Homo sapiens: one gene and its partners. The gene in region 1 interacts genetically with each later gene. Each region holds a gene or a part of one and is shown in the gene's direction. Other genes may lie near its edges.

Region 1 (3,500 bases):
AAGTACAACACTCAAGGTATTTGAAAAGACCTAAATAAGTAGACATTTTATTCTTCTGCTGTGAAGATTTAAGCAGTGGCTCACGCCTGTAATCCCAACACTTTGGGAGGCTGAAGCGGGTGGATCACAAGGTCAGGAGATTGAGACCATCCTGGCTAACACAGTGAAACCCCGTCTCTACTAAAAATACAAAAACAAAATTAGCCGGGCGTGGTGGCAGGCACCTATAGTCCCAGCTACTCGGGAGGCTGAGGCAGGAGAATGGCGTGAACCTGGGAGGCGGAGGTTGCAGTGAGCCGAGATCGCGCCACTGCACTCCAGCCTGGGCGACAGAGCAAGACTCTGTCTCAAAAAAAAGAGAAAAGATTTAAGTTCTCCCTAAATTCATCTGTAAATCCATTGACTCCCTATCAAAATTCCAACCTCTGTTTTTAAAGATGATTTTAAAATTCATATGGAAAGAAAATTTGGGAGTAAAACTCAGATGAACTTCCCTACAAGATCATAAAACTGTGATCATTGAACCCATGGTGATTTTTTTTTTTTTTGAGACAGAGTCTCACTCTGTTGCCCAGGCTGGAGTGCAGTGGCACAATCTCCACTCACTGCAACCTCCACGTCTCGGGTTCAAGTGATTCTCCTGCCTCAGCCTCCCAAGTAGCTGGGATTACAGGGATGTGCCACCACGCCCGGCTAACTTTTTGATTTTTTGTAGAGGTGGGGTCTCACTTTGTTACCCAGGCTGGTCTGGAACTCCTGGGCTCAGGTGATCCTCCTGCCTCGGCCTCCCAAAGTGCTAGGATTACAGATGTGAGCCACTGCACCTGACCCTCGTAACGGTGATTTTTAAGACTAGGTGATCTTAGTGACATAATTCTAATAGTTTGTTCCGACCTTCCACTGTGGACTCAATAGCAGGGAGATGAAGAGGACAGTGATTGCATGACCTGGTGGAGAAGAGACTAGAGAAACACAGTGGAACTAGTGGCTCACATCTGTCATCCCAGCACTTTGAGAGGCCGAGGCAGGCAGATTGCTTGAATGCAGGAGTTCGAGACCAGCCTGAGCAACATAGTGAGACCCCATCTCTATTAAAAAAAAAAACAGGCTGGGGCCAGGCATAGTGGCTCATGCCTGTAATCCCAGCGCTTTGGGAGGCTGAGACGGGTGGATTGCTTGAGACCAGGAGTTCAAAACCAGCCTGGCCAACATGGTGAAATCCTGTCTCTACTAACAATACAAAAAATTAACCTGGAGTGGTGGCGGGCGCCTGTAATCCCAGCTACTCAGGAGTCTGAGGCAGGAGAATCACTTGAACCCAGGAGGCAGAGGTTGCAGTGAGCCAAGATCACGCCACTGCACTCCTGCCTGGGCAACAAGAGTAAAACTCTGTCTCAAAAAACAAACAAACAAAAAAAACAGGCTGGGCATGGTGGCTCATGCCTGTAATCCCAGCACTTTGGGAGGCTGAGGTGGGTAGATCACCTGAGGTCAGGAGTTCGAGACCAGCCTGGCAAACATGGTAAAACCCCATTTCTACTAAAGATACAAAAATTAGCCAGGTGTGGTGACACGCGCCTGTAATCCCAGCTACTTGGGAGGCTGAGGCAGGAGAATCGTTTGAACCCAGGAGGTGGAGGTTGCAGTGAGCCAAGATTGCACCATTGCACTCCGGCCTGGGTGACAAAACAAGACTCTGACTGGGATTACAGGCGTGCGCCACCACGCCTGGCTAATTGTTCGTAATTTTAGTAGAGATGGTGTTTCACCATGTTGCCCAGGTTGGTCTTGAACTCCTGACCTCAGGTGATCCACCTGCCTCCCAAAGTGCTGGGATTACAGACGTGAGCCACCGTGCCCAGCCATAAGTAAGCATTCTTTCCTTTTTTAAAAAAAAAAAAAGTGGAGCAATCTAAATATCCATCAGTAAAGAAGTACAAAATTATGGCTTGTGCCGGGCATGTTGGCTGCAACCTGTCATCCCAGCACTTTGGGAAGCCAAGGCAGGAGGAATTCGTGAGGCCAGGAGTTTAAGACCAGCCTGGGCAACATAAGGAGACCCTGTCTCTATAGTAATAATAATAATAAAAATTAAGGTTTGGTAATACCACAGAAAACTGAGGCCATAGGAGAGAATGGATTTGCCTCTAGACTCACGTAGGAGGACCTAAGCCTCAGTCCGTGACACGGTCTGCAGCTTTCCCACGCTCCTGTTCACGTGGGGAAGGGAGCAGAGGACGGGGCTCTGTGCCTGCAGGTGTGGAAACAGGGAACAGGGTGGTGGGGGCTGGCTAGAAGGCCCGCATCACACAGCAGGGGGCGCCTGGCAAGGGGAACCCAGCTCCATATGTCATCGGAAGCTTTGTGCTTTGTAGTGAGGATGTGGGTGCCTGCCTCACTTTGCAGATGACTGTGCGGGAGGCCTGGGGACCCAGAGGTGTTGCTGGAGCTGGTGTTTACTGCAGCCCTTTGTTATTAACGCTTTAGGACCTGTGAGAGTTTGGAAATATTCCCACCGTGGGAGGGGCTTAAGCGTTTTGTCTGGGGCCGTTTAGCCAGTCGGCAGTGTCCCCAGGCTCCTAAGGAGCTGTCTTCTGAAGCTGCCTGTCGTATTGAAAAACGAAAGTAATTTAGTCAGAGGTCAGAAGCTCAGTCTGTGAGGTGTGGGCTGCACCTGAGGGCGTCCCATAGAGGGAAAGAAGGGCAGCTCGCAGACACCCCGTGATTTCCTGTGTGACCAATTTCTCTACAGAAGACACAAAGACACATCCAGCGGGGACCACCTCACCTGCAGATTAGACCCCCAAGCCAAGACCTGAAGGATGGGACCCAGGAGGAGGCCACAAAAAGGCAAGAAGCCCCTGTGGATCCCCGCCCGGAAGGAGATCCGCAGAGGACAGTCATCAGGTACAGAGCGCAGGGCAGGCTGCACGCCGCCGCTCAGGGCTTGATGTTCCGAAAAACAAGATTGCGGAAACGCATTGTGTCTGAGATCTATTTTCCTTTGAAACTGACAGTGTATGCTCTGTAATCTGTCCTCATTAACCTTAGATTACAGAATCGAATTTTTAAAACTGGAGGTCAGAGCTAAATTAGGTCCCCGATAATGTCCTCATGGTATGCAGTAACATTTCAGAATGTTTTGTGTGCGTGTGAAGGGTGCACAGGTGCGTGGGGATGGGGAGCCAGGCTCAGAGGTGGACGCTGGCTGCCTGGGCCACCTCCTTTCCCGAGCCCCATCTGGTCGAGCAGAGAGCAGAGGGAGAGGGAGTTGCCCGGTGCCCAGGCTCCCAGAGTGCTGTCCTCTGCCCGGTTCGTCAAGTCCAGGTAGTGGATCCCAGTGGAGCTTCGGTGCTGGAGGCGTCTCTGCCTCGTTTCCGGCTCCATGTTACGCTCTTAGAAACGGAGTTGATTGTGGTTGAGGCGGAAGGAAGGGTTCCCCGCAGACGTCCTCTCTCTTCTACAAAGTGTGGGCAGAGCCAGGGCCAGTGAGGGCTGCT
Region 2 (3,500 bases), on another chromosome or scaffold:
CGCTGGCAGATTTGGTGTCTGGTGAGGGCCCACTCCCTGGCTCATAGATGGCTGTCTTTTCATTGTGTCCTTGCATGGTGGCAGGGATGCGGGAGCACTCTCCGGGGCCTCTCATAGAAGGGCCTGGATTCCATTCATGAGGGCTTCACTCCCATGACCCAATCACCTCCCAAAGGCCATGCCTCCTAATTCCATCCCCTTAGGGGTTAGGATTTTGACATGTGAGTTTTGGTAGGGGACACAGGCATTCACTCTATAGCACTGATAAACATTCTTTGATAATAGCCATTATTTTAGTGGGTAAGGTGTTTTTAAATACCCATAAGCGAGCACAAAATCAGTTTAAATGGCAGAGAGGAGGGTGAGAAGAAAATGCTGGTGGGGAAAACCTTTTGCTGTGCACGCCTGCTCCTTCCTCCACTCCTACCCCATCTCCATGACCCTGTAAGTGGCCACAGTCATGTCACTGGGTAAAGTGCTTATTGAAACAAAATTGGCACAGGCTTCTGATCCTGCGTGTGGGTTGGTGTAGCAGAGGTTCAGTGCAACAGAAGAAGTTTTTCATCTTAAAATTTGGAAGTAACCCCTGGCCAGCAATTCACTGTAGTGTTTGGGAAACATAGGAATATCTGCTTATTGTGACAGATTCTCAAGAAACCTGTTTCCTTTCCACAAAGATGGAAACCAGGCACTGTACCAATGAGTCAGTTCACTACGTTTTGTCCTCTGTCCTTACACGCAGCGGAGACAGACGAGAACTTGGTCCTCTGCCTCTGCTGTTTGGTGACACCTATCGTAAGAATGTATCTAGGAATGAGCTGTTTGTTTTTGAAGTACTTATTTTTGGAAACCCTAAAGTGGCTGAGCATCAAGTGGTTGTGTTTTCTCTGAAAACGCCAGTATTAGTCATAACCTTTTTCCAAAGTATCATCCCTTAAAGATGTTCAGAACCTTGTGTGTATCGTATAACCTGGAGCACCCTCAAGCTGTCCGCCCTTTTCAAGTTTTAAAAATGGCTTAGGCAAACATATTGCTTAAGTGATATCCAGTGAAGGTGTCTCCTGTGCTTTGAAAAACCATCAACATTGATGCTTTTTTGTGACCCAATAAGGACAAGATTTCAGTGGTTCTGGGATGCATTTGATCTTTATGCACACTTCAGCTCTGGGTTTCAGTTCAGGGGTCAGCATAAGTAAAGCTTGATCAGATAACTATGCTTTGCCTATAATCGGCATTCATTCTGCTGGTGACAGAGTCCTTTGCTCAAAATGAGGCTTCCATGCGTTTGCAGTTCTAAACTGCTTTTCAGAGTCATGCCTCAGTCATTGTACTGAAGGATGCCTGTGGAAATGGTGGACTTCCGTGTTCTTTGCATTGCCTCTCCCCCATCCCTCTTACACACAGCTGTGACATGGGCATGCACACTCCTTCACACACACAGACTCTCCAGGCCCCTTTCCACTTCCTCTTTCCATTTGGCTTCATGACATTTTTATCAGAGATTCAAAATCTCAGATGAAATCCAAGTCAGCCTGTTTTACCAGTTGTCGAAATTGCCGGAGTGCAGCACTGTGGAGAATGGCAGTTGTAATAAATGAGAAATACCAGGTGTTTGAATTAGCTGTAGATTTTCACATTGTCTCTTCTAACCCTGCTTGTGCCCCCGCAGCCTTTTTCCATTTACAACTCAGTAATGTTTGTTTTCACAGAGATTACCGGAGGAAATAGATTATAAAGGGAAATGTTGGCATTTATAGTAGTACTATTTCAAAATAAGGTTCACTTTTCACTTTGTATTTCATTGTTCATTGTTATTTTCTTATCCAGGTCAAACTGGCAGTTTCCTGTTGGCTTGCCAGAGTATCTGATAGCCTGACTCTTAAGTTCATTTCATTTTCTAGAATGTTCTTTGTTCCCCTCTCCAGTTCCTTCCATTCCCTTGGACGTTCTTTCAGCATCGAACTCCTCTTCTCAGTTAATCGTGAAGTGGAACCCTCCCTCTCTGCCCAACGGCAACCTGAGTTACTACATTGTGCGCTGGCAGCGGCAGCCTCAGGACGGCTACCTTTACCGGCACAATTACTGCTCCAAAGGTAAGGGTGCAGCAGCGGCCTGGACGGAGGGTGTGACCGTTCATTCCTGTGGTTGTAATGTGCCTGAGCCCTAATATTACACGTATCAGACAACAGTGTAGTTCTCCATTGGAAACCAGCTATCTTCTGGTTTTTTTTTTTTTTTTTTGAGACAGAGTCTCACTCTGTTGCCCAGGCTGGAGTGCAGTGGCACGATCATGGCTCACTGCAATTTCTGCCTCCCAGGTTCAAGCATTTCTCATTCCCCAGCATTCCGAGTAGCTGGGATTACAGGCATGCACCACCATGCCCAGCTAATTTTTGTATTTTTAGTAGAGACGGGGTTTCACCATGTTGCCCAGGCTGGTCTGAAACTCCTAACCTCAGGTGATTTGCCCGCCTCGGCCTCCCAAAGTGCTGGGATTATAGCCTTGAGCCACCACATCTGGCCGAGACCAGCTATCTTCTTGATTAAAGGTACTGAGAGCTATTATTTTTCCTTACAAGCATGTATAACGGCTTTCATTCCCACTCTTGTTTTGGCTTTTCTTTTCCGAGAAGACAAAATCCCCATCAGGAAGTATGCCGACGGCACCATCGACATTGAGGAGGTCACAGAGAACCCCAAGACTGAGGTGTGTGGTGGGGAGAAAGGGCCTTGCTGCGCCTGCCCCAAAACTGAAGCCGAGAAGCAGGCCGAGAAGGAGGAGGCTGAATACCGCAAAGTCTTTGAGAATTTCCTGCACAACTCCATCTTCGTGCCCAGGTACCCAGCTCATGTGAAATTTCAGTTGGCAAAACCCACTGCTCAGGCCGGTTCTGTTGCCTTTCTCCCCACCAGGTAGTGTGTAAGTCAGCAGCTGGGGGGTACAATACAGTAGCCACTGAGACGGAGCCGAAAAAGATGACAGGTTCGGTGAAGTGAGTCCCTGCGGAAGCCAGTCAGCCCTGAAGGGAACAGGGACCAGGGCTTGGGTTGCTGGGGCCACCGGTGTGACAGGTACTGCTGTCTCAGCCACAACCCCCCACAGAGAGCAGGTGGGCACCCTGTGGTAGAGGCAGGGAGGGGAAACTCAAAGAGTATTGACAGCTGCTGCCTGGTGAGAGGAAAGGCCAGGATTTGGGTCCATCTCTGCCCTTCCTAATTATCTTTACTGCCTCTCTCAGCCTCACAGAGGAGGAGTGAAGCAAGAGGGAAAAAAGTCAGAGTCTGTGCTGGAAAGGGCCTGACTTCAAAACATAGCCAGGTGCCACAGGCATCCTGTACAAGTAAGTTTGGGAAGCAGTGTAGGGCGACAGCCTGCATTGGCTGTTTATTCCGTGGTTACTCTGTCTTTCAAAGCAACACAGCCCCTGCCCCAGGGACTCTGCTCCTCTGCTGTGGTCTTGGTTTCTGGGGAGTGGGGACAAAAGCAGAGGAAAGTAAAC
Region 3 (3,500 bases), on another chromosome or scaffold:
CAGTGATGTCAACTCTAGGACTTTTGTTTACAAGAGGGTATGGCATAGTGCTCTTCACACAGTATTGATTATTGGGATAATGTTTGAATTCTTTGTTTTGAAGAACCAATATTAACTCTTTTAGGACAGGATGCCAATTTAACTCAGAAGACTCACGTGACTCTTCATGGAACAGAACTGTGTGATGAATCCTACCCGGCTTTACTCACTGACATTCCTGTTGGAGACTTACATCCAGGGGAACAGGTAAACTTGGTCAACTGGGATTGAAGAGGAAATCAATTAGTTTGTAGTTTTAAATATATAGTGAGTTTTTAACAGTTCAGAGCGTTTTAACGCATATTCTAGGACTGAAAAAGTGATTTAACTAATGAACATTTCATACACATTTTACATACGTAAATGTGTAAAATGTCTTAAGCAGTTTTTCTACAAGGGAATTTAGAAAACATGCTTAACATGAATTAGTGGGCTAATAAAATACCCATTGTTTGTAACTTAGTGCAGTTAACTTCTCAGTCAACTTCTGCTTCCAAACTAGATAGAAAAATATTTTGGAAGTTAAAGAACAATAATTTCTAAAAGATGCAGTAGTAATGATCCCACCCTTATACTGTGGCCACAGTGTAATCAGAGTACTCTACTACAGTGGGAGCATTGATGAGTTACATTGTAACATTCTGTAAAAGTGATAAAGAATTTAGCCAGTTGGTATAAATAAACTCTAGAAGGTGGGAACATTATCCTAGAATATATATCAAGAAGAAATGTCTGTAATACTAATTAAATTACAACATTTATTTTGTTACAGCTGGAAAAAATGTTGTATGTTCGCTGTGGAACAGTGGGTTCCAGAATGTTTCTTGTATATGTTTCTTACCTGATAAATACAACCGTTGAAGAAAAAGAAATTGTTTGCAAGTGTCACAAGGTATTTTTTTATAGCTACTTTATAAAGCATCATATGTGGAGTATTCCCATTTTGTGTTATTTTAGTTTACCTATAAAATAAGCATAAAATAAGCAGTTTAGGTGCTTATAGTCTGTTATAAATTTTAATTAAACTTTTTAAAAAATCACTTATATTGAGATTTGTTTAGGCTGGCATTCACTGCTCAAACATTAAACAGAAAATTAGCTTATATGGCTTTTCTTTTTTTTTTTTTTTTTTTTGAGGCGGAGTTTTGCCCTTGTCGCCCAGGCTGGAGTGCAGTGGCACGATCTTGGCTCACTGCGACCTCCACCTCCCGGGTTCAAGCGATTCTCCTGCCTCAGCCTCCCGAGTAGCTGGGATTACAGGCATGCACCACCACACCCAGCTAATTTTTTGTATTTTTAGTAGATACGGGGTTTCTCCATGTTGGTCAGGCTGGTCTTGAACTCCCAACCTCAGGTGATCTGCCCACCTTGGCCTCCCAAAGTGCTGGGATTACAGGCGTGATCCACTGGACCCGGCCTATATGGCTTTTCGTATAGAGGATCAATAGGATTGAGATCTCAAGCAAATCACACATGAGATAAAATCTGTAAGTTGACTTACATATAGAGGGTTCTGGAGAAAAGGAGGTCGCCCTTTGAAAGGCATTTTTCTGTTATTAAAAAATATTGGTAAAAATTGTTTTCGGTAAGTGCACATAAAAGTGAAAATAGGAACGATCACGGTTACAGTTCACAACTCGAAGGCAACTGCTAACTCTTTGTGTTTCTTATTGGTCTCTTTTCTATTTCTAGAGATTTTTAACAGGCCATGTTTCTAAATAGATTCAATTGTGCTGTATATAATGTTTATGTTCTCTTTTGTTAGTAGAACATTATGATATTTGGTATCTTCTTGGTCCTGACAGTAATGTTGTCTTAGTTTTCTCTTAGGAATTGGGTCCTCAGCCCAGCAGAGGAGAAGGCCTATAGCAATTTGGGGATTTGTAGTTTTGTTACTGCACAGAGTCTGGGCTGTGGGCTATTTACTAGTCATTGGGAAAGAAAACCATCTCAAAATTATTAGTATTTCCCAAGCGGGAGAGAAGAAGGCATGTAATGTACTGTTGAAAATTTCTCATAGCCTGGTATAATACATAGAGTCCTATATGGTAGCTTAGGAGATAAGGGTGCCAATCTCAGCACATTATATGTATTATCTCATTTGATTTTTCTAACAAGCCTGTGAGGATTATGAAACTGGGACTTAAAGAGACTGCATGAGTTGAGCATCCCAAATCTGAAAATTCAAAATCCAAAACGTTCCAAAATCTTTTGGAAACTTTTTGAGTGCCAGCATGACACTCAAAGGAAATGCTCCCAGGAGCATTTTGGACTTGGAATGCTCAACAAGTAAGTATAATCCAAATACTCCAAAATCCAAAAAATCTGAGACACTTCTGGCCCCAAGCATTTCAGATAACCTGTATAACTTTCCCAGGGTCACGTCATTAGGTTCAAGGTCACAGAGCTAGTAAATATGTATTGAGCCAGGATTAGAATTCAGCTCTGTCTGGCATTACAGCCTGAGCTTTTAACCAGTATGATCTTTTTTAAAGGTTTCTTACCAAGAGGTTGTGTTATTTGTTTTGAAAGATGAAATAACCCCATGGTTTTTTTTCTTCTTTCTTTTATTTTTTTATTTTGACATGGGGTCTCACTGTGTTGCCCAGCTTGGAGTGTAGTGGCACGATCTTGGTTCACTGCAGCCTCCGACTCCTGGGTTCAAGCAATCCACCCATCTCAGCCTCCCGAGTAACTGGGACTACAGGTGTGCACCACCATACTCAGCAGATTTTTTATATTTTTGGTAGAGACAGGGTTGTGCCATGTTGCTCAGGCTGGTCTTGAACTCCTGAGCTCAAGCAATTTGTCCACCTCAGCCTCCCAAAGCTGGGATTACAGGTGTGAGCCACCATGCCCACCCCCCCATTGTTTTTCTAACAGACTCTTTTAGAAAGGAGATGTAGCATGTTGGTTAAGAGTGTAGGCTCCATGACCTCATCTTAAAGTGGCAATCATAATAGCACTTGTTTCCTTGTGTGATTATGAACATTACATAATACATGTATACGGATGATAGCAGTGTCTGTCACATTACATTATTATTATCTTTCTTATTAGTCATTTTGAGTTGAGGTGTAGTAGGAACTTAGACAAAAGGAAGACCCTAGCTTTGTGGAACGTCTGATTCCTCCTCTGCAAAATGGTGATGATGCCTGCCCTGCCCACTTCATTAGATCCAGAGATAAATAATGTATAAGAAAACACTTTAGCCAGGTGCTGTGGTTCACTCCTGTAGTACCAGCACTTTGGGGTTCTGAGGCAAGAGGATCACTTGAGGCTAGGAGTTCAAGACTAGCCTGAGCAACATAGCAAGACCCCATCTCTAAAACCATAAAATACGGTAGCCGGGCGTGGTAGTGTGCTCCTGTAGTCCCAGCTGCTCAGGAGGATCACTTGAGCCCAGGTGTTCGAGGCTGCAGTGATCTGTGATGGTGCCACTGTCCTCCATCCTGGTTGCC
Region 4 (3,500 bases), on another chromosome or scaffold:
TATGAGGGCAGTGTGTATGTAAAGTCCCACTGGAGAGCTGCTTTTTTCAGGAAGAGGGTGAATTGCACCCTTGGAGCCATCAGAATCCTCAGGCCCTCCTTATCAGACTCAGAATAGAGACTAGGACTGTACTGCCAAGTAGGGGCCACTTTATAGTTCCACCTGTAACATTTGCTATGTCAGTTACCTTGCCATGCTTAGCCATTGTCATATTCCATTCTGTTCTCGTCCCTCTTCCTCCTTTGGGTAACCAACACAGTGAGGGAGCCTGTTGGCCAAGGAGAACTCAAGAGGATTAAGCAGCCTCTCCTTCCTTCCCCCTCCTTCAGTGAGAAGGAGAGTCTGGTTGGACATGAAGGGAGGCTTCTTTCAGCATAAGATAGTCCTTAGAATGGGAGGTTTGGCCTTTTAGGGGGAACACTCCTCTTCTTCTTCCTTAAGGTTTCTTCCATTCAGCCTCAGCCCCTCCCTGTGTAACTCCTGCTTGCCTCCTGTTTGCCCCTTTCCTTATCTTTCTACATCATAGTCTGAGCCATTAAAGCCTCTGTGTTGGGCCAGAAAGACTTGGAATTTCATATCTAGAGGGGGCTTGATTTCAGCAATATGAGCTGGGCTCCAGCTGTTCATGTCTAACTCAACAGGGTTGAGAGAAGTAACATCTGCCTCTTGTTCTTTTGTCTCCCTCCTTGTATTCCCCTGCTGCATTTATTATTAAAACACTAAAAGCAACTCAGTGAGCTGCCTCCTCAGCAGAAAACCAGGCACAGAATAGACCCCGATGCCATTCCTAGTCCAGTAAGTGCAGGGGGTGGGTGTTTGTGCATGTCATTCCTGTGTTAGTGCCATCCATGCATGCCTGTGACCTCATCTTCACCTCATCTACCATGTCCATTCCTCCCCATTCTCTTCCTTTAGCCTAGCCCTTCTAGATACTCACTTATACAAGATAAAAGGATATGCATGCCTCAAGTCACCAGGTAATGAAGAGGTAGCAAGCTGTTTGCCTTGAGTATGGGGTGGTGGAAGGTCAGGCTCTAAGGGTGGGGTCAGGTGGCATGTCAAGCTTTGGCTTTAGTTCTGCTGGCACCTCCAGGAGCCTGCAGGTGATGTATGATGGAAGAGGACAAAGTTGAACGGTAGATCATTCCACTTTGGATTTGATTTGTCTGTAGCCTGTTGTGGAGAAATATTGGAGTAGGAATGTACAGATTCATAGTATCCCAAACTGGCATTTCTTACAGGAGAAGGGACTGCTGGTTTGGGAAAGTGTGGGTGCTTTCTCATCTGAAGAGTCTTTTTGACTCTGATATATTTCTAAGCTTCAACCTTTCTGCTATGGGATAGAGTCTTATTTGCCCTTTGCTTTTTCTGGTTTTCCAAACCCATCTTGAAGTAACTGACCAAAGGTCATTAGCCTGCATAAAGGTCTGAATACCAGCTTTGCAGGTCCTTTATTTTCCTTTGCTGAGTCTGTCAAAATGTGGAGGACTGAGGATTGAGCTATAAGGATTGGGTACTTCTCCTCTCCTCCTATATATACACATTGATGCTTACCTGAAAGTAAGGCAGCATCTGCTTCCTCACCTTACTTGATCATTTCTGGCTGTTTAAATCTCTCCTCACCCTGTCCCTTGTAATTTCATTGAGTGTAGAGTCATTCCAGGTAGATTCATTTTTACGTGGTTACTGTTGTCTGTTTTCCTGCTCTGACTCAGAATGTGTCTTGGGGAGAGGATCGGGGAAGGCATGATGGGGGAGGGGAATGGAATCTAATCATGTTTGAAGGTTTGTGATCAGAGCTGGGGCTTTTCCTGGAATGGGAGGAATGAGAGGGTGTTCACCATTGATGGGGGGTAGGGGGCAATTCATAAAGAAGCCCATTCTCATGTTGCCTGCCCAGCAGGCTGCTGGGAGTGAAAGATTGGCTGCTGTAGAGTGTAAGATTGGCATTACAGCATTTTATATGATCTCCAGAAGGAGAACAGGCCTGGTGTATGAGGTGTTCCTTGGCAAATTTTTAGTTTTTGTGTTACAGCTCTAGCCTTTTTCACTCTTGGCACTCTGGGACCTCACACTTCCTTTTTCTTCTGTCACCTCATTCATTGCACTTCTCTGCAGATTCAGGTCATTGAAGATGACAGGAACAACCGGGGTACAGAGCCATTTGTTACTGGAGTACGGGGCCAGGTGCCACCCTTAGTCACTACCAACTTCCTGGTGAAAGACCAAGGTGAGAATGGAATTAGCTCCTCCCACAGGGGCTTTTTCTTCAAGATTATCAGCTTATGGTTGGGGCTTTTTTTTTTTTTTTTTTTTTTTTTTTTTTTTAGTTTTTAACCAGAGACAAGTTCCCTCTAGTCCCTCTGGGGGAAAAAGCCACCATCACCTCTAGCTTTGTGGAGTTGATGGTGTGGATCACCAATGGAGAGCTGGTGTCTGGAAGGATTCTGTGATCTGACTCGGGTCTTCTGCCTCCTTCTTCAGGGAATGCAAGTCCCCGATACATCCGATGTACATCCTATAATATCCCTTGCACATCTGACATGGCTAAGCAGGCTCAGGTGCCCCTGGCAGCAGTCATCAAACCGCTGGCAAGGCTGCCCCCAGAGGAGGTGAGTCAGGGAAGGGGCTAGAGTGTAATGAAAGGGAGGGAGGTAGAGAGGGGTCTAAAGCGTCTTCCTGGATGTGATTCCAGCTTCACAATGGAAGATATTTTAGTTAGGCAGGAGAGGAGACTGTCTTTAGTGGCTTTCTATCCCAGGGCCCATGCCTGGAGAGGGGATGGTAGGGATGAGAGCAAAAGCCCAAGACATTGCTGAGAAGGAACAGAGTCTCTAGAGGAAACAAGCAGGATGAAAAGAGGTAGGGCCAGGCCAGGCGCAGTGGCTCACGCCTGTAATCCCAGCACTTTGGGAGGCTGAGGCGGGTGGATCACGAGGACAGGAGATCAAGACCATCCTGGCTAACACGGTGAAACCCCGTCTCTATGAAAAATACAAAAAATTAGCCGGGCGTGGTGGCGGGCGCCTGTAGTCCCAGCTACTTGGGAGACTGAGGCAGGAGAATGGCGTGAACCCGGGAGGCAGAGCTTGCAGTGAGGCGAGATTGCACCACTGCACTCCAGCCTGGGCAACAGAGCGAGACTCTGTCTCAAAAAAAAAAAAAAAAACAAGAGGTAGGGCCAAATTGTAGGGGAGAAGACAGCTGAATGTAGGAACCTCTCGTATCATGGTCATCTCCAGATGATGAGAAGGACATCATTCCATGTTTTCCTGACTGTCCTGTCATCCCAGGTTAGTGCTGTTAGAACAGCATATAAGAGAAAAGGTAGATTAGGATCCAGTGATCCTTCTGTCACCTGTTTTGGGACCTGATCTGTCACCCCAGTACCTGATACCAGCATGAAGAGAGCGAGCCAGGCAGCTGCTCCACCAGGCCTTGGTAGGATACTCATATTCAGCCTTGCTTATCTTACGATAGGGTTCTCTGTTACTAGAAGC

What was found. A genetic interaction does not mean that the proteins touch.
Region 2: changes in MAN1B1 (region 1) and IGF1R together harm fitness more than expected from each alone (negative genetic interaction), as found in Homo sapiens cells (one large-scale study listed by BioGRID).
Region 3: changes in MAN1B1 (region 1) and TRAPPC11 together harm fitness less than expected from each alone (positive genetic interaction), as found in Homo sapiens cells (one large-scale study listed by BioGRID).
Region 4: changes in MAN1B1 (region 1) and SEC24C together harm fitness less than expected from each alone (positive genetic interaction), as found in Homo sapiens cells (one large-scale study listed by BioGRID).

Annotation. Positions count from the first base shown.
Region 1 is NC_000009.12:137,093,485-137,096,984, forward strand, and holds part of MAN1B1 (endoplasmic reticulum mannosyl-oligosaccharide 1,2-alpha-mannosidase), read left to right. Parts: intron 1-860; exon of another isoform or gene 861-946; intron 947-2,752; coding exon 2,753-2,907; intron 2,908-3,500. UniProt on the Homo sapiens protein: Involved in glycoprotein quality control targeting of misfolded glycoproteins for degradation.
Region 2 is NC_000015.10:98,914,039-98,917,538, forward strand, and holds part of IGF1R (insulin-like growth factor 1 receptor isoform 1 precursor), read left to right. Parts: intron 1-1,925; coding exon 1,926-2,093; intron 2,094-2,633; coding exon 2,634-2,838; intron 2,839-3,500. UniProt on the Homo sapiens protein: Receptor tyrosine kinase which mediates actions of insulin-like growth factor 1 (IGF1). Binds IGF1 with high affinity and IGF2 and insulin (INS) with a lower affinity. The activated IGF1R is involved in cell growth and survival control.
Region 3 is NC_000004.12:183,693,793-183,697,292, forward strand, and holds part of TRAPPC11 (trafficking protein particle complex subunit 11), read left to right. Parts: intron 1-124; coding exon 125-246; intron 247-811; coding exon 812-931; intron 932-3,500. UniProt on the Homo sapiens protein: Involved in endoplasmic reticulum to Golgi apparatus trafficking at a very early stage.
Region 4 is NC_000010.11:73,761,372-73,764,871, forward strand, and holds part of SEC24C (protein transport protein Sec24C), read left to right. Parts: intron 1-726; coding exon of another isoform or gene 727-795; intron 796-2,118; coding exon 2,119-2,230; intron 2,231-2,484; coding exon 2,485-2,612; intron 2,613-3,500. UniProt on the Homo sapiens protein: Component of the coat protein complex II (COPII) which promotes the formation of transport vesicles from the endoplasmic reticulum (ER).